7 linked regions of the Homo sapiens genome follow. The protein of the gene in region 3 purifies or fractionates together with the protein of the main gene of each other region. This does not show direct contact. Each region holds a gene or a part of one and is shown on either strand. Other genes may lie near its edges.

Region 1 (3,500 bases), on a different chromosome or scaffold from region 3:
GTATAGGATTCTGTGGATTTTTTTTTTTTTTTAGTTGGAGTTTCATTCTTGTTGTCCAGGCTGGAATGCAATGGCGTGATCTCAGCTCACTGCAACCTCCGCCTCCTGGGTTCAAACAATTCTCCTGCCTTAGCCTCCCGAATAGCTGGGATTATAGGCCCCTGCCACCATGCCCAGCTAATTTTTTGTATTTTTAGTAGAGACGGGGTTTCACCATATTGATCAGGCTGATCTCGAACTCCTGACCTCCAGTGATCCACACCCCCCCCCGCTCCCTTGGCCTCCCAAAGTGCTGGGATTACAGGTGTGAGCCACTAGGCCTGGCCTGTGGATTGTTATAACAATTTTGACTTTTATTCTGGAGATCATAAGCCACTATTAGGAGTTTTGAAGGAGGTAATGATATGATTCTGAGTTTAACTTTTAAAGGGTAATTTTGGCTGCCATGTGGGATGGGGGAAAAATTTAGGAAATTATCCGTAAACGTCTGTCTGTATAGAATTCATACTCTTTGAAGGTGACATCAGAGAAGACAATCTCTTCATGAATCTTTTGAGGGGGCCTCAATCTTTTCTGTGAAATAGCACTTCATGTTGGTCAATTTACATGTTAATTACATTTGATTCTTTGACATTGTAGTCTTAATAATTGCTAACATGAATTTAATAATTGCTAACATGATTTGATTCTTTAGATGGCCGCCAAGAACGAGTCATGTTTGACAAAATTACATCTCGAATCCAGAAGCTTTGTTATGGACTCAATATGGATTTTGTTGATCCTGTAAGTAAATATGGTTTTTATCTTGGGTTCCTTCTTTCATGTGTTTCTTTCCATTTGTCTCTTATCCCTGGACCTTCATTCACCTGATATACTTTGGTATTCTGGCTATGCCCTTCGATATAAAATTTGAATTCATTGCTTAAAACATTTTTTTTTCCTTAATTTTGGTTCTGTCCTGTGAGTTCTCACTTTTCAGAGAACTATGAATGTGAGTAAAGAGGAAAATTTGATATTAACATTTAATATCAGATATTTCCTTGAGTAAATTGTTTTATTCATTAGTGGAAAAGCCTAGGCCAGGCGCCGTGGCTCACGCCTGTAATCCCAGCACTTTGGGAGGCTGAGGTGGGCAGATCACCTGAGGTCAGGAGTTCAAGACCAGCCTGGCCAACATGGTGAAACCCCGTCTCTACTAAAAATGCAAAAATTAGCCGGGCCTGGTGGTGGGCGCCTGTAATCCCAGCTACTTGGGAGGCAGGAGAATCACTTGAACCTGGGAGGCAGAGGTTGCAGTGAGCCGAGATCGTGCCACTGCACTCCAGCCTGGGCGACAGAGCGAGACTCCCTCTCAAAAAAAAAAAAAAAAGGGAAGCCTAGAGTAAAGCTTGTTTTGGAATTGTGGTTATTTAGGTAGGGACTGGTTTAAAATTTGTTTTTTGTTATTTATGTAAAAAGATTTAAGTAATATAAAGTAGATTTCATGGACAATATTTAAGTCAAGAACAAACTATTCATAAACCAGTTGCTCTGCTTTTCTCCTTATCCTTTATAACTTCTGTATTCTAGACTCTCATCATCAGTTATCTGGACTGTTTTCTGTGGTCTCTGCAGTGTCCTGGACTTCCTCTAATCTTACCCTCTTCAAACTCGTCTTCCACCTGACTTCTAAAATGATCTTCCTTAAATGAGAATCTCTAAGAACTCTTTTTTTCAAATCCACCCATATTTCCGTCTCCTTATTTAGGTATCTTATCCGCACTGCTAAGGTATCTTAGGTATCTTATCCGTAAAACCTGTGCTCATCTCATAGCTTTAATCATATAGTATGGAAATTAATTATGGATCTTTGTCCTCCCCTAGAATTGAGGATGGGCTGTGTATCTTATTCTTGTGATATCCTCAGTGCTTGACATGTATCTAATTAGCCACTTGACCAAAGTAAGTTTGGTCAAGAGAAAATGATTTTATGTATCTTGAAAATATGTTTATTGTAAATTCTCTTTTATATTGAGGACTTAGGCAATAATTAGAATAGTAGAATGTTAGAGTTGGAATGAACTTAAGAGTCCATCCCATTTCATCTTTGGTTTATAGATAAGAAAGTTCCAAAGAGAGAGGGGAGTGACTTAAGTTAGTGGGAGTGTAGGGAGAAGCACCTAGGTCTCTTGACTCCTACATGTTCTATTGCCTCATGCAGTAGTACATTTTAGAGCGCAAGAATGTTGCAGCATCCTCAAACTTCCTAGGGTAGATTCTGTTGAAAAACTGTCGGTGCACATCTGTAATCCCAGCACTTTGGGAGACTGAGGTAGGCAGATTGCTTGGGCTCAGGAGTTTGAGACCAGCCTGGGCAACATGGTGAAACTGCCCAGGTGCAGTGGCTCAATCTTGGCCCACTGCAGCCTCCACCCCTGGGGATCAAATGATTCTTGTGCCTCAGCCTCCCTCAGCTGGGATTACAGGCATGTGCCACCACGCTATTTTTTTTTTTTTTTTTTTGTATTTTTAGTAGAGACAGGGTTTTGCTATGTTGGCCAGGCTCGTCTTGAACTCCTGACCTCAAGTTATCTGTCCGCCTTGGCCTCCCAAAGTGCTGGGATTACAGGTGTGAGCCACACTGTGCCTGCCCTCAACCCTGTTTCTACAAAAAAAAAAAAAAAAAAAAAATTGGTTGGGTGTGGTGGCGCATACCAGTAGTCCCAGCTACTTGGTGGTGGGAGGATCGCTTGAGCCCTGGAGGTTGAGGTTGCTGTGAGCTGAGATTGTGCCACTGTACTCCAGCACAGGCCACAGAATGAGACCCTGTCTCAAAAAGAAAAAAAGAAAAACTGTGTGCTGTTAGATCTGGCACAGTTAGCACACAGATGGTATTTTATTCTGAGTTCTAATTGTTTGCCTTATTGCTCTAGAAACTATTTAGAAGACTTCACTGCTCTTATACTGAACACACCTTATCTGCTGGATCTGGGAAGAAAGTGATCAGGAGCAACTTGGGCTTAGCTATATTATAATTAGAATAGATTGCAGACTGTTAAAATAGTTACACACGTATGTGTCTTTTTTTGAGGGGAGTATGCATTGTTCAGCTGGGAAACACATTTATTTTCTGTTGGATTAAGCGGTTTCTTAAAGATTCAATAAATAAACCACTCACAACTTAGAATTTGTTTTTCTTAAAAATGTATGCTAATACCCTGTGCATTACCTGTCTTAAAAACTGGAACTTATAATGTGGCCTTGAAAACAGTGAAATGCAGTGAGGTTTAATGGGATTGGGGCCAGAAGACTTGTATAATAATATAACCTTGGGCAAGTCTCAGTAACCTGAGCCTCAGGTTCTTCATGTAAAATAGGTATAGTAATAATCATCTCACAAAGTGATTGTGAAATGTCAGAGATTATCAAAGTTGATAATTACTTATCAACTTTGGTTGAGAATCATTTGAACCTCGGGGGCGGAGGTTGCACTTTGTAATTTGTGAAGTGCTAAAGAAAGT
Region 2 (3,500 bases), on a different chromosome or scaffold from region 3:
TAAGGACAACAGTTTCTAACCAAGTTTCTCTGAATCCTTTCCTGAGAGGTGGTGGGCAGGAGGGAGGAGTGAGACTTATCAGATGGGACGCTTGCCCCAAGACTGTGGGATAAACCACCATTGCTAGTCCTCAGGAATTAGACCATATTTAGTATAGGAGTTGGGGCAAAAATAAAAGTGTAATTTGTAATGGTTTCTGTGGGCTGTAGACTCTTTGTATTTACTTGGAAATTCAGTTATGTGGATCCATTTTGGAGATGAATTTCATCTCATGAGTTGCTGTGGCATTTAAACAACAGGAAATGTGTCCCTAAATGGAAACAAATATAATCCCACAAAACCAACAATTTTATTTGCCTCTACTACGTCAGGCAGAATTCTTCAATTAAGTTGAACTACATTTGTTGATCCCTTTTCTCATCTTACCCCTTTATGCCACCTACTGAAAAGAAAAACAAATAGCTAGGTTTGGTTTCCTGTTTTTTGTCTATGTCCCAGCTGACATTCAGTCAAATGTTGGGATACTTCTAATTTGGTGGTGTTTCTTTGTACATTTTTCAGTGCAACTGTTTAGTCATGTGTTTTCATCTAAGAAATTATCTTTTGAATATTTAAGCCTTGATCCTTTTATTCTGAAACCATTAATATTCCTTCTTGGCTGGGTGCAGTAGTTTACGCCTGTAATCCCAGCACTGTGGGAGGCCGAGGCGGATGGATCACCTGAGGTCGGGAATTCGAGACCAGCCTGACCAACATGGAGAAACTCCATCTCTACTAAAAATACAAAATTAGCCAGGTGTGGTGGTGCATGCCTGTAATCCCAGCTACTCGGGAGGCTGAGGCAGGAAAATCACTTGAACCCGGGAGGCGGAGGTTGCGGTGAGCCAAGATCGCACCATTGCACTCCAGCCTGGGCAACAAGAGTGAAACTCTGTCTCAAAAAAAAAAAAAAAAAATCCATCTTATCTCTTAGTCCGTCCTTCCTTCCTTCCTTCCTTCCTTCCTTCCTTCCTTCCTTCCTTCCTTCCTTCCTTCCTTCCTTCCTCTCTCTCTCTTTCTTTCTTTCTTTCCTTCTTGACAGGGTCTCCCTGTAGCCAGGCTGGAGTGCAATGGCATGATCTTGGCTCACTGCAACCTCTGCAGCCCAGGCTCAAACGATCCTCCTGCCTCAGCCTCCCGAGTAGCTGGGACTATGCACCACCATGCCTGGCTAATTTTTTTAATTTTTTGTAGAGACAGGGTTTTGCCATGTTGCCCAGGCTGGTCTCAAACTCCTAGACTCAAGCAATCTGCCCACCTCGGCCTCCCAAGGTGCTGGGATGATAGGCATGAGCCACCGCACCCAGCCTATCTCCTAGATCTTGAATCAAAAATAAAATGTAAATCACTTCCATTCTGCTAGCATGAGGGTTTGTTGCTAAAATTGAGGATTCTATCTGACGTTTACTTTTTGTTGTTTTTTGAGACAAGGTCTTGCTTTGTCGCCCATGCTGGAGTGCAGTGGCATCATTATAACTCACTGTCAAACTCCTGGACTCCAATGTTCCCTCCCCTTTTAGCCTCCCAAGTAGCTGGGTCTACAGGCATGAACCATCAGGCCCAGATAATTAAAAAAACTTTTTTTGGTGAAAACATGATCTTGCTATGTTGCTCAGGCTGGTTGTCTGGCATTTTCTTTGTCCTTTATTCTTTATACTAGCTAAACCCTGGAGTATCCTTGAAGCCTTTACTGGCATACAGAGTACCTGAATCTTACTTTGGAGCCTAGCATGGGTCATAAATATATCTGATTCATTAACCTGTGAGACAGCTGAGAGAACACAGACTCCTTACCTGTATCTCCAGGCATATCTGGTTTTTCTCTGCCTAATAGATTTTCCTGCTTTCTAGTTAGTAATATTGAGAAAGAAGAAAGGCTTATTTATCATTTGCTTTTTTTCCACTGTGAATCATCTGTTCTTTCCATGAACATTCTGGGGAGCACCTCCTGATTAAACTCCTGTCTCCCTGACCACTATCCTGCTGTCATTGGACTTCTTGAAGCACATGGGCTACTGCCCCAGGACACTGGGATTTGAGAGGAGTTTAGTGGTAATTGTCAGGTCTTTCAAAGCATTTATTATTCCTTTTATACGGAGATTTCAGTATTGAGACTTAAAATGAACTGAAAAATGAGATTGAACATTTAATATTTTGGATGTAACTTTTGAAGAAAGTATGCTTTGGTGCTTAAAATTGTATATGATTTTAGGTAAGAAACTTTGATAATATTGGCATAATTTAGATTTATTTTCTTTCTTTTTTTTGAGACAGTCTCACTCAGTCGCCCAGGCTGAAGTGCAGTGACACAGTCTCAGCTCACTGCAACGTCTGCCTCCCAGATTGAAGTGACTCTCGTGCCTCTGCCACAGAGTAGCTGGGATTACAGGCATGCACCACCACACACCGCTAATTTTTTGTATTTTTAGTAGAGACAGAGTTTCACCATGTTGGCCAGGCTGCGAACTCCTGAGCTCAAGTGATCCTCCCACCTCAGCTTCCCAAAGTGCTAGCATTACAGGCATGAGCCACCACACCTCACCAGATTTTTAAAAAATATATAACTGCATCTCTCTTGATTCTGGGGCTTGGTAAAAATGGATAGATAAGATAGTATTCTAAATTCAAATTCGTGGCTAGGCACAGTGGCCCACACCTGTAATCCCAGCACTTTGGGATTCCAAGACAGAAGACTCACTTGAGTACAGTATGAGACCAGCCTGGGCAACATAGATCTTGCCTCTACAAAAAAAAAAAAAAATAGCCAGGTGTGGCACATGCCTGTAGTCTCAGCTGCTTGGAAGGCTGAAATGAGAGGATCTCTTGAGCCCAGGAGGTCTAGGCCAGAGTGAGCTGTGATCGTGCCATTGCACTCCAGACTGAGTGACAGAGTGAGACTGTGTCTAAAAAAAAAGTTTGAATTAAAAAAAAAAAAAAAAAAGTCGGCTGTGCACGGTGGCTCATGCCTGTGATCCCAGCACTTTCGGAGGCCAAAGTGGGTGGATTACCTGAGGTCAGGAGTTTGAGACCAGCCTGACCAACATGGTAAAACTCCATCTCTACTAAAAATACAAAAATTAGCCTGGAATAGTGGCGCATGCCTGTAATCCCAGCTACTTGTGAGGCTGAGGCAGGAGAATCCCTTGAACCCAGAAGGCAGAGGTTGCAGTGAGCTGAGATTGTGCCATTGCACTCCAGCCTGGGCAACATGAGCGAAACTCCATCTCAAAAAAACAAAAACAAAAAACAAACTCAAATTAGCATGATAGATCAGGCTACTTAGATTCAGCTTTCTGAGATGTTATTTGTTAACATTAAGGCTAATTTATTATAATGAAAATGTAAACTTTGAGGTATGTTAATATATAAACATCTTTTTCCTTTGGCCTAAAAGGTCTTTAGTATTCAGCACACTGGGTAAAGTTCAGTTTAGACACAATCAAATTGGCATCTTTTAAACA
Region 3 (2,236 bases):
AGCACTGAGGCACCAGTGGGCTTGGCACTCCACCTTGGGCTTCCTTTTCCTGGAGAGCCGCCTTGAGGGTCCCTCCTGTGACTGGGGTCTCTGCAGCGAGAGCCGCGGGGGTTGCGGAGCCCCTGCCTGGGGGAGCTGGCGGAATGTGAGCCGCCGGCCGGGGGCCGCCACATAAGACCTGCAAGGTGGTGCCTGGGGCCCTGGCTCCTTCTCGGCTGCCCCTGCCCACCCAGTAACAGCCCCCACCAGCTACAGAGCCCAGGCGGGTGCCAGCCACGCTGGGAGGGCAGAGGACAGACAGCCCCGGGGCTGCGACTTGGTTCTGTGTCTACTGTTAGAAGTTGAGTGGGAAGCTGCAGGCCCGCCAGGACCACTGGGTCCCTACAGAGCAAAGGCCTGCGTGTTCCCAAACAGCCGTTGCCCCCGTGGCCGTGGTAGGTAATCCATATTGGATGTCATAAGGACCAGGGGGATATTTAAAGAGAGAAACAGAAAATATATAGAGATATAAAATTATATTCACAGTTTATCTACAGATTTTTCGTAACAATCTTTCTTTTCCAGTTTGATACTGTAAATCTATCAGAGCAGAGCCGGGGGCACGGGCACAGGTGGGAGTTGGGAGCAAAGCGGAGGCCCGGGCTGCCCGCCGTCCCCCTTCATCTCCCCACGGACTGTACCAGGCAGCTGGGCCCCGCAGGACAGGCCGCAGCGGGTGGCCGGTTCTGTCCCGTCTTGGGGTTCTTGGTGTCCACGTCTTGTGGGCCGTGGGCTTCTACCTGCCCTTGGCCTGCAGTGCTTTGCTGGAGAAGGGACTCCCTGGTCCCCAGGGTGGACGGAGCCGCTGTCACCGCCCAGAGCTGGGCCGGGGAAGCACGGTGTGTTCTGCTTTTCTTTTCAGATTGTTGAAATTTCATTGTCATGATTTAATATATGGATTTTTTTATTTAAGAAAAAGACGAGGGACTCTTTGTCACGTGGGTTTGTTTTCTGTCTCCGTGCCTCCGGCTTCCCAAAGAGATCCAGGTCTTTGCGTTTCCAGGGCGTGGGGACCCCGGCCCCCTATGCCGCCACGCCGCCACACCGCCTCACCCTGGCTTCTGTGCTACTTGGCAGTTCCATTTCATTATTTATTTTTTGTGCTGCTTTTTATCATGATATAAATTATTGAAAACAGATCACATGTGGGCCCGTGTCTGGCCGCCGCCGCCCTGCCCCGTCCCTGCGGCCACCACCTAATTTATTGCCGTGCGTCCTGCTGCTGTGACTGCTTTTGTACCTTTGCAATAAAGAATTTTCTGGTTTCAGACCCTTTCGTTGCGTAGCTGGTGCTTTCAGCTGGGGCTTTCTTGGGCCAAGAACCACACCCCCCCCCCAATCCCAGGGGACCCTGCCTGTCCCTCACCGGGGTCAGGATCCGGGCACTACGTGTAAGTGGCTTTCCCGGACTGCTGGGCCGTGACCGTGAGGCTGGGACAGCCACGGGGGAGGTGCTGGTCAGGTGACCACGTCCTGGGCTCAGTCTCTGAGGGTCAGGCCGCAGTCCTGAGTGTCCCCATCTGCCCCACCCGGAGCCCCCTGTCCATGCAGCCTCTCCCTTCCAGTGGAAGGAGCAGAGAGCAGCACGGCTGTCAGTGTTCCCCTTCCCTGGGAGACATCTCGCCCAGCTTTGCTGGACTCTCAGAGGAGCCTGCAGGAAGCTGTGAGCAAGACAGGGTCTGTCTGGGAGCAGAGAGCAAAGCGCCCCTGCACAGTGGCCGGAAGCCCGTGGACTCCTCCGAAAAGCCACGGGCCTGCCCGCATGCCGTCCCCACCCCGCCCGGCCTTCCCCGTTTTTGGGGCTGAGCTGACCGAGGTGTGAACGCTGTTCAGTGCTGGACCACGCAGGGTGAAATCCCAACTCGAGTTTTTTGAGACAGTATCTTGCTTTGTCACCCAAGCTGGAGTGCAGGGGCGTGATCACAGTTCACTGCAGCCTCGACCTCCCAGGCTCAAGCAATCCTCCCATCTCAGCCTCCTGAGTAGCTGGGACCGCCGGCACGCACCACCACGCCCAGCTAATTTTTGTATTTTTTTTTTGTAGAGATGGGGTTTCACCATGTTGCCCAGGCTGGTCTCAGACTCCTGGGCTCAAGCAATCCACTCGCCTTGGCCTCCCCAAGTGCTGGAATTACAGGTGTGAGCCACTGCACCCGATCATAATCCCAACTCGCAGCATCTGTGTGGCCTGGGGCCA
Region 4 (3,500 bases), about 64 Mb from region 3:
GCAGATTACTTGAGCCCAGGAGCAACATGGTGAGACTCTGTCTCTGTAGAAAATACAAAAATTAGCCAGGTGTGGTGGCACACACCTGTAGTCCCAGCTACTTGAAAGGCTGAGGTGAGAGAATCACTTGAGTCCAAGAGATGGAGGTTGCAGGGAGCCGAGATCACACCACTGCACTCCAGCCTGGGGGTCAGAGCAAGACGCTGTCTCAAAAACTAATAATTTAATGTGAACTGTGTTTCAACATAGTGTCGTTTATCCTAAGTGTTATTGTTAACATCTAGGTTTCACTCCTTTTACTTCCAAATAATGCTGCAGTGATCAACTTTGTTTAAAGACCTCCTGCTCCTTCCTTCCTTTGAATTATCTCCACAAAATAAATTTCCAAGCATAGTATCAAAAAACACAGATATTTTCAATTTTAATCAGTGTTACCAATTTGCTTTTCCCTCAGTTCTTTGGTTTCCCTGAAGCTCCAGCGGTCTTTATTTTTAAGACATGCTTTGTAAAATTTCTTTTTTTTTTAATTGTAACGATAATCTTCACCTGGAAAAATTGCTAATAGTTACACATTAGTACCTATTACTTTAATTTTTACTCTTTTTAATTTCCTTTTATTGCCCATTTAGCATTTAGTTATTGGATCCCGATACTAGTACATTTTTATATGTGTTACAAACATTTTATGCATTCTTTATCCTTTTTTGTTAGTGTTATGAATTTGTATTGTATTAAGTTTTTATACTTTTAGAGTTAAATCCATCTGTTGATGCCTTTGCATTTTATTTTTCTTCTTTTTTGTAGATCTTGTTGCATACCAATGCTTTTGTATTTTAATTGTTAATATTCCATTACCTGTCAGCTCTTCTGATTTGGTTCATTAAAAATACATGTAACTCTTCTATCTGAAATTGATTTGTTATGAGGCAAATTATAAATCTAAATCATCCTCAGTAGTTCTGTCGAGTTTGCCCAGTTCCATATCTATGTATTTATCTTGCAGAAGTAGAAAGATGTGTGCACAAGGATATTCATAGCAGTACAGTGTAAAATAGCAAAAAAAAAATGGAGGTAGGTTACAAATAGATAATGGTTGAATAAATTAGAAAATACTATGAAATACTATGTAGCCATTAAAGGAAAAAGGAGATCTATGTTTATATCCTAGAAAGATAAAGACACTATTTAGTGAAAAAAGCAAATTTTGGTATAATAGGTATAGGATAAACGTGTTTGTATACATGCATGTAAATGCATAGAAAAGGGTCGGGTGGTTGGGGAGGAGGGAGAAATTTCACTAGGTATTCTGCATGTTTCCATTTTGCTGGATTTCTAGAGAAGAATATGAAGTATAAGCCCAGATGCAAGATGTTTTCCTTTAAAGGCAAAGAACCTAAGAACAGCCTTTGACTAGATTAACTCTTGAAGATAGAGGTGTGACAGCCAAATTTTTGTTTTACCATTAATTTAATGCCATGGTATATACATATTTTAAATCATATTTATCACATGTGTTTTTTCATTCGCATTTTTTGACTCGCATTTAGATGCTTCACGTGCCTTTTAATGTTGGTGTCTTCATGGGAGGCACATTTGAACTAACCTAGCAATTTCCAGAGCACAGCATCTGTACTCCCTTCTAACCTGTTTGAGACACAGCATTTTTAATTTAATTTTTTCATAGGTAATCCATTCACGTGGTTCAAAAGTTTTTAAAAAGGACCGGGCACAGTGGCTCATGCCAATAATTCCAGCATTTTGGGAGGCCAAGATGGGTGGATCACGAGGTCAGGAGTTCAAGACCAGCCTGGCCAACATGGTGAAACCCCATCTCTACTAAAAATACAAAAATTAGCCAGGTGTGGTGCCGCACACCTGTAATCCCAGCTACTTGGGAGGCTGAGGCAGGAGAATTGTTTGAACCTGGGAGACAGAGGTTGCAGTGAGCTAATGTCGCACCATTGCACTCCAGCCTCGGTGACAGAGCGAGACTCCTTCAGGAAAAAAAAAATATATATATATATACATATATAAAATGTTACACAAAGAAAAATCTATCCCACCCCTTCCCTTTATGCCTGGTTTCCAGTGCTCCTCAGCCCCGACTGGTAGCTTGTTATTGTCTCTTTATGCATATACGAGAAAGTACAAATACACAATCTTAATTTTCCTCCTTTTTAAAATATAAAAGGCAGATGCTATACCCACTGTTCTGCAGCTTGCATTTTCTTTTTTTGCCTGATGAATATATCATGGTGATTTTTCCATATCAGTATATTAAATGTCTTCATTCTTTTCTACAGCTGCAGAATAATCCATTGCATAATTGTACCATCATTTATTTAGAGTTACAGCACATTTTAAATTCCACTGGGAATTTGACCCTGAGCCAAACGTACCTAGCTGCATTACAGTAGCATTTAATGGATATCTGGTATTTATACACTATTCTAAGTGCTTTAATCCTGCATTATCTCAGCTCATTTAATTGCCCAGCAGTCTTAAGAAGTAGGCATGATTGTTATCCCAATTTTACAGTTGAGAAAAGAAAGGCATAGAGGAAGAAATAAGTTGCCCGTATCATTCTGAAGTTAACTTTCTTAGGTAAAATTGTGACCACATTAATTTCGAAATGTTAGTTGTTTAGCATAGGTGAAGTCAGCAAACTTTTTCAGTAAAGGGCCTGGCAGAAAATAGGCTTTGCCAGTTGCCGCAGCCACTCAACTCTTCTAGTATGAAAGCAGTCACAGACATTACGTAATGAATGACATTACATAAATGAATGAGCATGGCTGGGTGCCAATAAAACTTTATTTACAAAAGCAGGTAGCTGGCCAGATTTGCTAGTCCCTGCAACAAGTAATTCAGCAGCACCTTAGTCTTGAAGTGCCCTATGAAAGCATCTAGGCCCGTGGCTGTGCGGCAGCCGGCCCACAGGCGTCTTCTTGTTGCATTTTTTTTTTTGCCAACAGGGCCCAGGATTTCAGCTCTTTAACTGACTTCTTTATACCTGCTCCCACCTGTTATTTTGTTCCTGTTTCTGTTATCCTTATCCATGAGTCATTGGGTAGGAGGGTAGTTTAACATGCTCTGCCTTCTCTGTCCTTGAAAATAAATGCACATATTCTCTATACTGTTGCCTATAAGAAATTAAAAACAATACATGTGAAGATAGAGTCCAGAATTCAGGTGCCTTTTTTTTTCCTTTTTTTTTTTTTTTTTTTTTTTTGAGACAGAGTTAAGACTCTGTCGCCCAGGCTGGAGTCCACTGGTGCAATCTTATCTCACTGCAACCTCCGCCTCCTGGGTTCAAGTAATTCTCGTGCCTCAGCCTCCCTTGTAGCTGGGGTTGCAAGCGTGCAATACCATGCCCAGCTAATTTTTTTTTTCTCTTGTACTTTTTAGTAGAGAGGGGCTTTCACCATGTTGGCCAGGCTGGTCTCAAATTCCTGACCTCAAATGATCTGCCTGCCTTAGCCTCCCAAAGTCCTAGCATTACA
Region 5 (3,500 bases), on a different chromosome or scaffold from region 3:
ATTGGCAGAGTTGAATTCAGAGGCGCTCACATTTGGAGACACGATGTCTAAAATTCCAGCCAGTGAAGGTTCCATGGGGTTGCAGGTAGGAGAGGGACTGGGGCTGGGCCCCTGCCCCACAGCATCCTTCTCCACCTGCAGGTGGGCGGCGGCACTGCGTGCTGGGGAAGCACAGATTCTTGTGCCCTCTGTGACCTTGAGCCTGCCACTGACCTCTCTGAGCCCTGCTGGCTGCCTCCCCAATAGGAATGACAACTCCTACTTCATGAGGTTGTAGTGGGGGCTCAGGGGCACAGGGAGATCCCGCTGAGGCTCCCAGGGCCCTGCCTGGTGCTTGGCAAGGAGCAGTTCTGATGGGGGATGTGTCAGCTGCCAGAGGCTCAGAGCCAAGGCCCCTCCCACATCTCCTGCCTGCGTGCATTCCTCACATCCTGGCCTTGGGCCAAACTGCTCAGCCTCAGCCGCCTTCCCTCGATGCTGGAGGATCAGGTCCAAGAGATGCCTCTCCCCGACCAGCCTAGGACTGCAGTCAGCATTCCCAGGCCCCAGTGTGGTCTGTGGGGCTGTGTGCAGAGTGTGCGAGGTCAGGGTTCCCGGGGGTGGCAGGCACTGAAGGTGAACATCCTGTTCCCGACCTTCAGTGGCAGCTTGCCCAGGAGACAAGGCTGTCCAAGGCCAAGGTCGGGGCTGGGCTGTCTGCAGGGGCTGGCGGGGGGCACTGGCTGTCTCAGGGTCACTCAGGTTGTTCCTCGACTCCCGCCAGACGCTATGTCCAGCAAAGGCTCCGTGGTTCTGGCCTACAGTGGCGGCCTGGACACCTCGTGCATCCTCGTGTGGCTGAAGGAACAAGGCTATGACGTCATTGCCTATCTGGTGAGGGAGCGACCTGGGTGTCTGTCTTCCTGCGTGTCCTGCAACCTGTCCTGTCTGCCCCCTGCCAGCCTCTGTCTGGGTTGTCAGCCTGTCTGCTCACCGTCACTCATTCAAGCCTGGCCTCTTCTCTCGAAGCCTGTCTTGAACTGGAACTAGGAAAATAGCTTCTCGTTGTACTGCCTCACTTTCTCCATCTGCAAATTGGCCATCCTTGAGATGCCTTCCAGAGCCAGGTGATGGAGGCGCGGGGAGGGCACAGAAGTGAACTTGGCAGTGCTGCTGGCTTAGCCTGCTTGCAGAGAGGCATGGGCTGGGACCTGCTGCCAGCCCTGGGAAGGCACACAGTCTTCCCATCTCCAGAGTATGCTGTCAGCCTGCAGTAATTCAGCAAAGATTGTGGAATCCTGAGCTGGAAGGACCCTGGGGGATCACCTGGTTCTGGGATGGGAAATAGGTCACAGGTGATGGGTTATGTGTGAAGCCACTTCCTCATCCAGGGCCCATAGGAGTCATCCCTCTCAAACTAGCTCCTCTTCGACTGAACCTGGCCACAGCTCTGAGTCCTTCTCTGTGTGGCTGTGCTGTTCAGGACTCTTAGGTGCAAATTTTAGAAACTGAACTCAAACCAACTTACGCAAAAAGGAAAGGGAAAAGACAATTCTTGGCTCACACAACTGAGAACTCCAGGGGTAGGATGGCTTCAGGCAGGGCTGGATCCAGGTGCTTCTAAGATCTATCTCCAACTCTACTTGGCTTCATTCTTGGCCTCTCCACAGGGCAGGCAAGGCTCATGGTCACCCTCATAGCCCACCTTTCCCAAAAAGGAGGGCTTACCCCCAGTAGGGCCCATGGGGACCCACCACGCATTAGTCCCTATGGCTGCATCATGGGGTGCGAGGCTTGGGCCATGAGCCTACTCCTTCAGTGGGCGGGATTTCTTCCTCTCCATCCCTGTGGAATGGGGTCCACCCAGGAAAGAAGGTTCTGTTTCCAGAGGAAGTGAGCCTGGGTCTCTGGACAGACAAAACTTAGCTCTTGCCAAAAGTGGCTTGTTTGCCGGCATATTGGCATGTCTAACTGCGCCCAATGCCCTTGTCATTCAGGTTGGGGAAAGTGAGGCCCAGGGGAAGAAATACTTTGCTCACAGTCACCTGGTGGGTGAGAGCACAGCTTTGAGGGGCTGCAAAGAGCCCAGGGTGTATCCATCTCACTGTAGGTAGCACAGCGGGGCAATCAGAGCTGGAGCTGGGCGTATAGACCCCTGGGCTACCACCTGGGGGATTTAAAAGCTGAATGTGATTCAGATAAGCACCTGCAGCTGGGCTTTGGCAAGATTCCAGGGTCTGGTGAGCCGAATGAAGGGAGTGAGGGCTGAGGCCAGGATCTGGGCAGCAGGCCAGAGTCCAGGCAGCAGGAAACATGGCAGTGTCTAGACAGGGGCTGTCAGACCCCGAGGTCAGGGCACTGGCCACAGGGACGGAGCTGGAAGTTCCTGAGCACGGGCTTCTCTGCCTCCCGCCTCTCAGCTGCCTCAGGATGGCCAAGGCATGGCCTTTGACTAGGGAGGAGAGCTGGAGGCTAGGAAGGCCCTGACAAGCTAATCTTTGCACTGGCTGAGAAAGAGTTTTCTGGAAAAGACAGATGAGTTTCAGGAGAACCCTAGACCTTCCAGCAATGACAGCAGATGGTTGTCTCCCAGCAGCCTGTGTGGCCAGGGCCAGGCTCAGCCAATGCTCCAACCCATGGAAGCCACCAGCCATCACCACGCTACAATCCAGCTCCCAATCTCACCTCCTGGAAGAATCTCACCTCTCCAGGCCTTGGGCTTTGTCCTTTTTCCTTCTTACTGTGACTTGGCCATGGAATGGAAGCTGTCTCTGTAGCAGGGGGTGGGAGGCTGCTGCATGCGGATGGTGTGAACTCAGGGCTCCCCCCAGGGGCTGACGGAGCCTCTCCGCTTCTGCTTCTCAGGCCAACATTGGCCAGAAGGAAGACTTCGAGGAAGCCAGGAAGAAGGCACTGAAGCTTGGGGCCAAAAAGGTACCAGGCGGGAGGCAGGGATTTGGGCTGGGAGTGGGGCGGTGATGTGGAGGGCAGTGGTGGATGCTCCTGCCCCAGGGATCCCATCCCTTCCAGTGTGTCTTCTTGCTTCTAAGAGTATGAGATCATCCTGCTCTCAGGTGTGTGAACCCTCTTGTTTTTCTGCCTCCCCCACGCCCTCTTCCACCCACCCACCTTCCCATCCAGGTGGAGTGTCTCTTCCCCACCCACATACCTTCCCTTCTCTTTTATCTCTCTGTCCATCTATGCACCCACTCACCCTCTTTTATCTCTGTTTATCTACTCGTCCACATATCCATCCATCATTCATCCCTCCATTAGCTATCCATCGATCCATCCATCCATCCATTCAGCCATCCATCCATCCATCACCCACCCATCCATTCACCCATCATCCATCCATCCATCCATCCATCACCCACCCATCCATTCACCCATCATCCATCCATCCATCCATTCATCCATTCATCCATCATCCATCCACCCATCCATCCATCACCCATCCACTCATCCACCCATCCATTATCCATCCATCCATTCATCCATCCATCCATCATCCATCTATC
Region 6 (4,215 bases), on a different chromosome or scaffold from region 3:
AATAAAATGCGGCCTCTGATTCAGTAGCCTTGGACAGGACCAGAGGTTCTGCCTGTTCTGATGAGTTCCCAAGTGAGGCGGACAGTGCCAGTCCACAGACTCACACTTTGAGATACAACACCTGGGCCGTTGTGTCCAAATCCACTTGATAACCTGGAGCACTTATTAAATATCCAAATTGCCAGGACTTTCCTCTGGAAATCTGGATTCAGTATGTTTTGGTTGGAGCCTTGGGCATTTGGGAAAACTAGAATTTCTTTCTCTCTCTTTAGACAAAAGTCAACTACTGTTGAGGCATGGGCTTAATAAATGTTGACTAAAATATCCAACTCAACGACCAATCCTGTACAGTTTTCAAACGGTGTTAGTAACTTATTTGCAAATAATAAGGAACAACTTATTCCTCATCACACTGAGGAGCCGTGTGACCCATCGTGCTGGATCAGAGATGAACACCAAGCACGCTCCTAACACCAATGTCACCCTGAACGTCAACAGGAAACATTGGCCGTGGAGAAGTTGTTTAAACCTCTTGAAGCATCTTGCCAACGACGAGACTTCAATAATCCTCCTTTATTCACAAAAAATTTAAAACCAGTGGCAACAACGGCACATTACTTAATAAAGCAACTAAGTTAGAAGTGCAAGACACTGATTTATATGCTGTTGATAGGTCTGGAGAGACAGGACCATTCACTAGGCTGAAAAGGTGGTGGCCATCTGGTATCTTCCTAAAAAAGTTTATCAGGGTCCTGGCCAGGCGCGGTGGCTCACGCCTGTAATCCCAGCACTTTGGGCCGGCTGAGGTGGGAGGATCACGAGGTCAGGAGTTTGAGACCAGCTTGACGAATATGGTGTAACCCTGTCTCTACTTAAAATACAAAAATGACCCCAGCGTGGTGATGCACACCTGTAGTCCCAGCTACTCAGGAGGCTGAGGCAGAAGATTCACTTGAACCCGGGAGGTGGAGGTTGCAGTGAGCCGAGATTGTGCCACTGGACTCCAGCCTGGGCAACAAAGTGAGACTCTGTCTCAAAAAAAAAAATAATAATAATAATAGAAAATAAAAAATAAAATAAATAAATAAATAAATAAATAAATAAATAAAAAGTTTATCAGGGTCCTAATCCTTTCCCAGAAGGCAAACTAAAGCCTGGAGCAAGACAAGGTCTTCTCCAAGGCCACACAACTGTCAGTGACAGAGGATTCAGTTCAAAGTCCTGTCTTTTCAGGCCTGTGCCTACAAACCAACCGTTAATCTGAGTATTTCAACCTGGCCAAAGGCAACACAAAACACCCAACCCTATATTTTTGGGAAAGAAAAAAACGGGGGCAACTGAGCAGACAGACAGAGGCAAGTACAATGTGGCCTCCTAGATAAACCTCAATGCGCTTATTTCTTTTGGCACAGACACTTCCTTCTTAATTTTGAAGGAAAGTCACATCACATTACATTCTATCTGTCCCTAAGAATTAAACCCTGTTAGGTGAGCCAAACTTAAACACATTAAATTCTACAAATAGGCCAGGCACAGTGGCTCACGCCTGTAATCCCAGCACTTTGGGAGGCCAAGGCGGGCGGATCACCTGAGGTCGGGAGTTCGAGACCAGCCTGACCAACATGAGAAACCCCCGTCTCTATTAAAAATACAAAATTAGCCTGGCGTGGTGGGCCATGCTTGTAATCCCAGCTACTCGGGAGGCTGAGGGAGGAGAATAGCTTGAACCCAGGAGGCGGAGGTTGCGGTGAGCCGAGATCGCCCCATTGCACTCCAGCCTGGGCAACAAGAGCGAAACTCCGTCTCAAAAAAATAAACAAACAAATAAATTCTACAAATAGCCATTAGAATTATTAGGATAGAAAACGATGATGGGTACTAACAGATTCACTCAGAAGGAGTGGGCAGCTAATTCACATTATGTGTAGCTCTGGCTTGGAGAAGACACAGGGCTTGGAGGAGGCAAGACTGTTCAGCATGAATTAAAATTGATTTATGAGCTTGCTGTAGCACTTGGAATAGAAAAAAGAATCTTTTCAGCGCCTTTGACCCCTCTCTCAAATTACACCAGGGTGCAACTGAGGAACAACAGTGCCGACCACCCACTTTTCTCGACCCTTGGGGAAAATAACTTTTTTTTGGAAGGGAGAGTCAGTAGATGAGGCTGCATTTTCCACCAGGGAACACGAACTGCTGCGGGAAGATCCCAGCTTCTGGCTAAAGGAGCCGCAGGCCAGCTCGCCATCCAGTCCCCAGAGCCCGGGCTTTAGGTAAAGCGTGGAGATGCAAATCAGTTTCGCCGCCAAGGACCGGCCAGGCGCGTCTCCTCCCGGGCCTCGCAAGGAACAGGTCAGGGAGACGACTTCCAACTTTCTTGGCCGGACCCTAAACGTTCACCGCCCCTGCCCAGCCGCCCACTCCTGGGCAGCCAGCAAGTCTCCATTCACAAGCGGCTCCATGCTGCCCAGCACTGGCGCCCCTGAGGCGCGGAGCCCCGCAGCCAAATGACAGGACTTGGGGGCAAACAAGGACAAAAGTTCCCACCAGGTGGGCACTGCAGGAAGGAGGCCGACAACCCCGAGATTCTCCGAGTCCCGCGGCACGTGCGCTGCGACGCTGGCCGCTTCCCCCGCCGCTCGGGAAGGTCACGCCGCCCGCACACCGAGGCCCGCCCCGCGCCCCGCTCCCCGCTCCCTCTGCCTGGCGCGCTCCCCGCAGCTGCAGGCGCCAGACCGGGCTGCGCTCACCGCCGCGCCGGCGTGGCCGCGTCCAGCTCAGGCTCCGCCGCCCGCTCTCGGCTCCGGGTCGCCGGCTGGGGCGGCCACTTAACACCCACGTCGGCAACGGCCGGCCCTTCGCCCCTCCCTTCGCGCAGGCATCCCGGACTGCGGCCCCGCGAAGCTCAGGAGCGCCCCTGCGGCTGGCGGGCGGCCTGCCCAGGGCCGTGCCCGAGCCGAGACCGGGAGCCGCCACCGCCCACCGGCCCTGCCACCGCCCCCAGCACGGGAAGCGGAAGTGGGCGTGGGGCCGCGGCGCGCACAGCCAGCCCGCGACCCGGCGTGGTGCTGCCGCCGACCCTGGTGAAGGTGGAGAGCGGGGCCTGCGCCTCCGGAGACTTTCCCACCTCTGGGATCCCCGAGACCCTCTCTGAGGCCGGACCCTTGTTAGCCCGCTGGGCTGGGACTGGGGGCTGGGGGCTGGTAATGTCAGTGGTTGGGAGGACTTACTTTTTAGCTACTTTGACCTTGTTGGGAGGCTAAGGCCTTATTTATAAATTATATTTGAGTACAAAATTATACTCGGGATCCAAGGCCCTAATAGGAAATACAACTAAGTATGAAAATACAGGAATTAGCCGGGCATGGTGGCTCACGCCTGTAATCCCAGCACTGTGGGAGGCCGAGGTAGGCGGATCACCTGAGGTCAGGAGTCCAAGACCAGCCTGGCCAACATGGTGAAACCCCGTGTACTAAAATTACAAAAATTTATCCAGCGTGGTGGTGCGTGTCTGTAACCCCAGCTACTAGGGAGGCTGAGGCAGGAGAATCGCTTGAATCTGGGAGGTGAAGGTTGCAGTGAGCCAAGATTGCATCACTACACTCCAGCCTGGGCTACACAGCGAGACTCCGTTTCATAAAAACAAACAAACAACGACAAAAAAAAAAAGGTGTGGTGACACATGCCTCTATTCTTAGCTATTTGGGAGGCCAAGGCGGGAGGATCGCTTGAGGCCAGGAATTGGAGGCCGCAGTGAGCTATGATGGCACTGTTGCACTCCAGCCTGGATGACAGAGACCTCATCTCTCTCTCTCTCTCTCTCTCACCCACACACACACACACACACACACACACACACCCTCCACACAGTGTAATTTTATTTTACAACTTTAAGCCTTGTTTAGATGTGCTGTTGGATTATTATTTTTTTCTTTTTTTTTCTTTTTTTTTTTGAGACAGAGTCTCACTCTGTCACCCGAGCTGGAGTGCAATGGTGCAATCTCAGCTCACTGCAACCTCCCCCTCCTGGGTTCAAGCGATTCTCCTGCCTTAGCTTCCCAAGTAGCTGGGATTACAGGCATGCGCCACCACACCCAGCTAATTTTGTATTTTTTAGTAGAGACAGGGTTTCACCACCTTGGCCGGGCTGGTCTCGAACTCCTGACCTCAGGTGATCTGCCTGCCTCGGCCTCTCAAAGTGCTGGGATTACACGTGTG
Region 7 (3,500 bases), on a different chromosome or scaffold from region 3:
AGCTTTAAGACCCAAGACAATTCATTATTCGACCTGAACACTGCTCTGATGGCTCAATTTCAATACCAGTTCTTGAAATCTGAGTACTGCATATGTAATTAGAAGCAACTTCCTGGCCTTTTTCTTGTTCAAAAAATCTTTTTATCCAATTTACTTCACTCAGCATAATTATACTGAGAACCATCCATGTTGCTGCATGTGTCAACAGTTTATTCCTCTTGATTGCTGAGCTGTATTCCAGTATATGGATATACCCGTTTCTTCATCCATTCCCCTACTGATGGACACTAAGGTTGTTCCAGTTTGAGGCTATTACAAATAAAACTGCTATCTACAAGTCTTTGTATGGACATATACTTCATTTCTCTTGGGTAAATACCTAGGAGTGGAATGACAAATTCCAAAATGGGTTGTACCATTTTGTATTCCCACTAGCAGCGTAGGGAAGTCTCACTTGTTCCACATCTTCACCAATACAGTCTTTTAAATTTACACACATCACTGGCCAGGCGCAGTGGCTCACACCTGTAATTTCAGCATTCTGGGAGGCCGAGGTGGGCGGATCACTTGAGGACAGGAGTTCAACAACAGCCTGGACAACAAGGAGAGACCCCATTTCTACTAAAAATACACAAATTAGCTGGGCGTGGTGGTGCATTCCTGTAATCCCAGCTATTTGGGAGGCTTAGGTGGGAGGATCACCTGAGTCCAGTCGGCTGAGGCTGCAGTGAGCCATGACAGTGCCACTGCACTCCAGCCTGAGCAACAGAGCAAGACCCTGTCTTAAAAAATGAAACCTTTTCATCACAAGCGCACAAATTCGTGACAGCAGACTTTTTTGTTCATCTCTCTGCAAATTCAAAATACTTCTAATTGTGCAAAGAAAATCACTAAAACATGAAAGAAAAAACCAATGACCACAACCACAAACTCTAACCTCAGACCTGAACATTACTAAGCAAAATAAAACATTCCTTCATCTTTATGTTCCACTGACAGTGATTCTCTGCAGTCCAACAGAGCAGCCACTAACCACGTGTGACCTTGGAGCACTTAAAATGTGTTGTGAATGTAAAATGCACACTGGAGTTCAATGACTTAGCATGAAAAAAATGCATGTAAAATATCCCATTAATAATTTTTATATTGATTATGTTTCAAAGTAATATTCTGGATAAACTAGGTTAAATAAAATATATTGTTAAAATTATTTTCACCTGTTTCTACTTTATACAATTTTTTTAAAAAAATTTAAATTGACTTTCAAATCAAAGTCAATATATAGGAGCTAAAAATGATCTCATAGACAGTAGAATATAATAGATACCAGCAGCTGGGAAGGGTGGACGTTGAGAGCTTGGTTAATGGATAGAAAAAAAAAACTTAAATGGAACGAATGAGTTCCAGTATTCAATAGCAAAGTAGGATGACTATAGTTACCAATTTCTTGTACATATATATATATTATTTTTTTTTTGAGACAGTCTCATTTTGTGGCCCAGGCTGGAGTGCAGTGGTGCGATCTCTGCTCACTGCATCCTTTGCCTCCAGGTTCAAGCAATTCTCGTGCCTCAGCCTCCCTCATACCTGGGATTACAGGCACAGGCCACCACAGCCGGCTAGTTTTTTTTGTATTTTTAGTGGAGAAGGGGTTTCATCATGTTGGCCAGGCTGATTTCAAACTCCTGACCTCAAGTGATCTACCCACTTTGGCCTCCCAAAGTGCTAGGGTTACAGGCATGAGCCACCACGTCAGGCCAATTTCTTGTATATTTTAATTTGAAATGTTAAGTAGATTTGAAATGTTCCCAACACAAAGAAATGATGTATGTTTCAGGTGCTGGATATCCTAAATACTCTGATTTTATCATTACACATTCTATCCATGTGGGCAAATATTACTGTACACTATAAATACGTAAAATTACTGTTTGTCAATTTCTTAAAAATTGATACATAATTTTACATATGTATGGAGCACAATGTGATGTTTTGAGATACACCCACACACACACACACACACACTCTCTCTCTCTCCCTCCCCTTGTGGAATGATTAAATCAACCTTATCTATTTCTTTGTGCTTTTTAAAAAAGCATTATTATAAAATTTAAAATTGTGTATATAGCATATATAATATTTCTATGGGACAGCACTGATCAAAAATTTTTAAAGGAGACTCAAAATAATGTATCTTCAACTGGCAAAGAAAGAAAGAAAGATGTGTGTGTGTGTGTGTGTGTGTGTGTGTGTGTATACTTTCCCACCCTATTTCTCCAAGGTGAAGAAAATGGTACAGCAGAAAGGGCTTAGATCTGGAACCAGGACTGCCTTTAGGTTCTAGGTGCAACTCTTACTGTCTAGTCTATGTGTCCCTGAATACATCATTCAGCTTCGGCCACGTGCAGTGTCTCACGCCTGTAATCCCAGCACTTTGGGAGGCTGAGGTGGGTGGATCACCTGAGGTCAGGAGTTCGAGACCAGCCTGGCCAACATGGTGAAATCCCATCTCTACTAAAAATACAAAAATTAACTGGGCGTGGTGGCGCATGCCTGTAATCCCAGCTACTTGGGAGATAGGGAAATCATTTGAGCTCAGGAGGTGGAGGGTTGCAGAGAGCCGAGATCTCGCCACCGCACTCAGGCCTGGGCGACAGAGGAAGACTCAGTCTCCAAAAAAAAAAAAAAAAAAAAAAAAAAAAAAAATCATTGAACTTCCCTTGATTTAAGCTTCCTGATCATTTTTTTTTTTTAATTCAAACAAGTCGGCCGGGTGCGATGGCTCACGCCTGTAATCCCAGCACTTTGGGAGGCCGAGGCGGGGGGATCACGAGGTCAGGAGATCGAGACCATCCTGGCTAACACGGTGAAACCCTGTCTCTACTAAAAAATACAAAAAAAAAATTAGCCGGGCGTGGTGGCAGGCGCCTGTAATCCCAGCTACTGAGGAGGCTAAGGCAGGAGAATGGTGTGAACCCGGGAGGCGGAGCTTGCAGTGAGCCGAGATTGCGCCACTGCACTCCAGCCTGGGCGACAGAGCAAGACTCTGTCTCAAAAAAAAAAAAAAAAAAAAAGTCAACAAAGGCCTGGCATGGTGGCTCATGTCTGTAATTCCGACCCTTTGGGAGGCTGAGGCGGGAGGACCGTTTGAGCCAGGGAGGCTGAGGGTGCAGTGAGCCTTGATCATGCCACTGCACTCCAGCCTGAGCCACAGATCAAGACCATCTCTATAAAATAAATAAATAAAAGTCAAGTGCAAATGTATTACGCTCCTGTTTTACAAAGCATTTTTCTATTATTGCAGATCTTCGGTTTACAAATTAACTGGAGGTGGGATCCAAACATACTAAGATTGTACAAGGCAAAATGAAGAGAGCCCTAGATGAGACTCTGTGTTTGTGTGGCATGTGTACGTGTCTGCATGTGTTTTAAAGGTGAAAAAGTACATTAAAGGACTCAGGGGAAACTCTAAGCACTTGGAAGACTCCTTCTAACTCTAA

The links.
Region 1: the proteins of TMEM184A (region 3) and RRM1 purify together in Homo sapiens (affinity purification with mass spectrometry; 2 studies listed by BioGRID and IntAct, with this or other methods). This does not show direct contact.
Region 2: the proteins of TMEM184A (region 3) and PDP2 purify together in Homo sapiens (affinity purification with mass spectrometry; 2 studies listed by BioGRID and IntAct, with this or other methods). This does not show direct contact.
Region 4: the proteins of TMEM184A (region 3) and VKORC1L1 purify together in Homo sapiens (co-immunoprecipitation; 2 studies listed by BioGRID and IntAct, with this or other methods). This does not show direct contact.
Region 5: the proteins of TMEM184A (region 3) and ASS1 purify together in Homo sapiens (affinity purification with mass spectrometry; 2 studies listed by BioGRID and IntAct, with this or other methods). This does not show direct contact.
Region 6: the proteins of TMEM184A (region 3) and SLC25A15 purify together in Homo sapiens (affinity purification with mass spectrometry; one large-scale study listed by BioGRID and IntAct). This does not show direct contact.
Region 7: the proteins of TMEM184A (region 3) and GPAT4 purify together in Homo sapiens (affinity purification with mass spectrometry; one large-scale study listed by BioGRID and IntAct). This does not show direct contact.

The regions. Positions count from the first base shown.
Region 1 is NC_000011.10:4,101,299-4,104,798, forward strand, and holds part of RRM1 (ribonucleoside-diphosphate reductase large subunit), read left to right. Parts: intron 1-694; coding exon 695-783; intron 784-3,500. UniProt on the Homo sapiens protein: Provides the precursors necessary for DNA synthesis. Catalyzes the biosynthesis of deoxyribonucleotides from the corresponding ribonucleotides.
Region 2 is NC_000016.10:66,887,015-66,890,514, forward strand, and holds part of PDP2 ([Pyruvate dehydrogenase [acetyl-transferring]]-phosphatase 2, mitochondrial precursor), read left to right. Parts: 3' UTR 1-3,500. UniProt on the Homo sapiens protein: Mitochondrial enzyme that catalyzes the dephosphorylation and concomitant reactivation of the alpha subunit of the E1 component of the pyruvate dehydrogenase complex (PDC), thereby stimulating the conversion of pyruvate into acetyl-CoA.
Region 3 is NC_000007.14:1,541,735-1,543,970, forward strand, and holds the end of TMEM184A (transmembrane protein 184A), read right to left. Parts: 3' UTR 501-2,236; downstream 1-500. UniProt on the Homo sapiens protein: Acts as a heparin receptor in vascular cells. May be involved in vesicle transport in exocrine cells and Sertoli cells.
Region 4 is NC_000007.14:65,949,574-65,953,073, forward strand, and holds part of VKORC1L1 (vitamin K epoxide reductase complex subunit 1-like protein 1), read left to right. Parts: intron 1-3,500. UniProt on the Homo sapiens protein: Involved in vitamin K metabolism. Can reduce inactive vitamin K 2,3-epoxide to active vitamin K, and may contribute to vitamin K-mediated protection against oxidative stress.
Region 5 is NC_000009.12:130,451,461-130,454,960, forward strand, and holds part of ASS1 (argininosuccinate synthase), read left to right. Parts: intron 1-763; 5' UTR 764-768; coding exon 769-873; intron 874-2,844; coding exon 2,845-2,913; intron 2,914-3,500. UniProt on the Homo sapiens protein: One of the enzymes of the urea cycle, the metabolic pathway transforming neurotoxic amonia produced by protein catabolism into inocuous urea in the liver of ureotelic animals.
Region 6 is NC_000013.11:40,788,196-40,792,410, reverse strand, and holds the start of SLC25A15 (mitochondrial ornithine transporter 1), read right to left. Parts: upstream 2,801-4,215; 5' UTR 2,748-2,800; intron 1-2,747.
Region 7 is NC_000008.11:41,581,200-41,584,699, reverse strand, and holds part of GPAT4 (glycerol-3-phosphate acyltransferase 4 isoform 1 precursor), read right to left. Parts: intron 1-3,500. UniProt on the Homo sapiens protein: Converts glycerol-3-phosphate to 1-acyl-sn-glycerol-3-phosphate (lysophosphatidic acid or LPA) by incorporating an acyl moiety at the sn-1 position of the glycerol backbone. Active against both saturated and unsaturated long-chain fatty acyl-CoAs.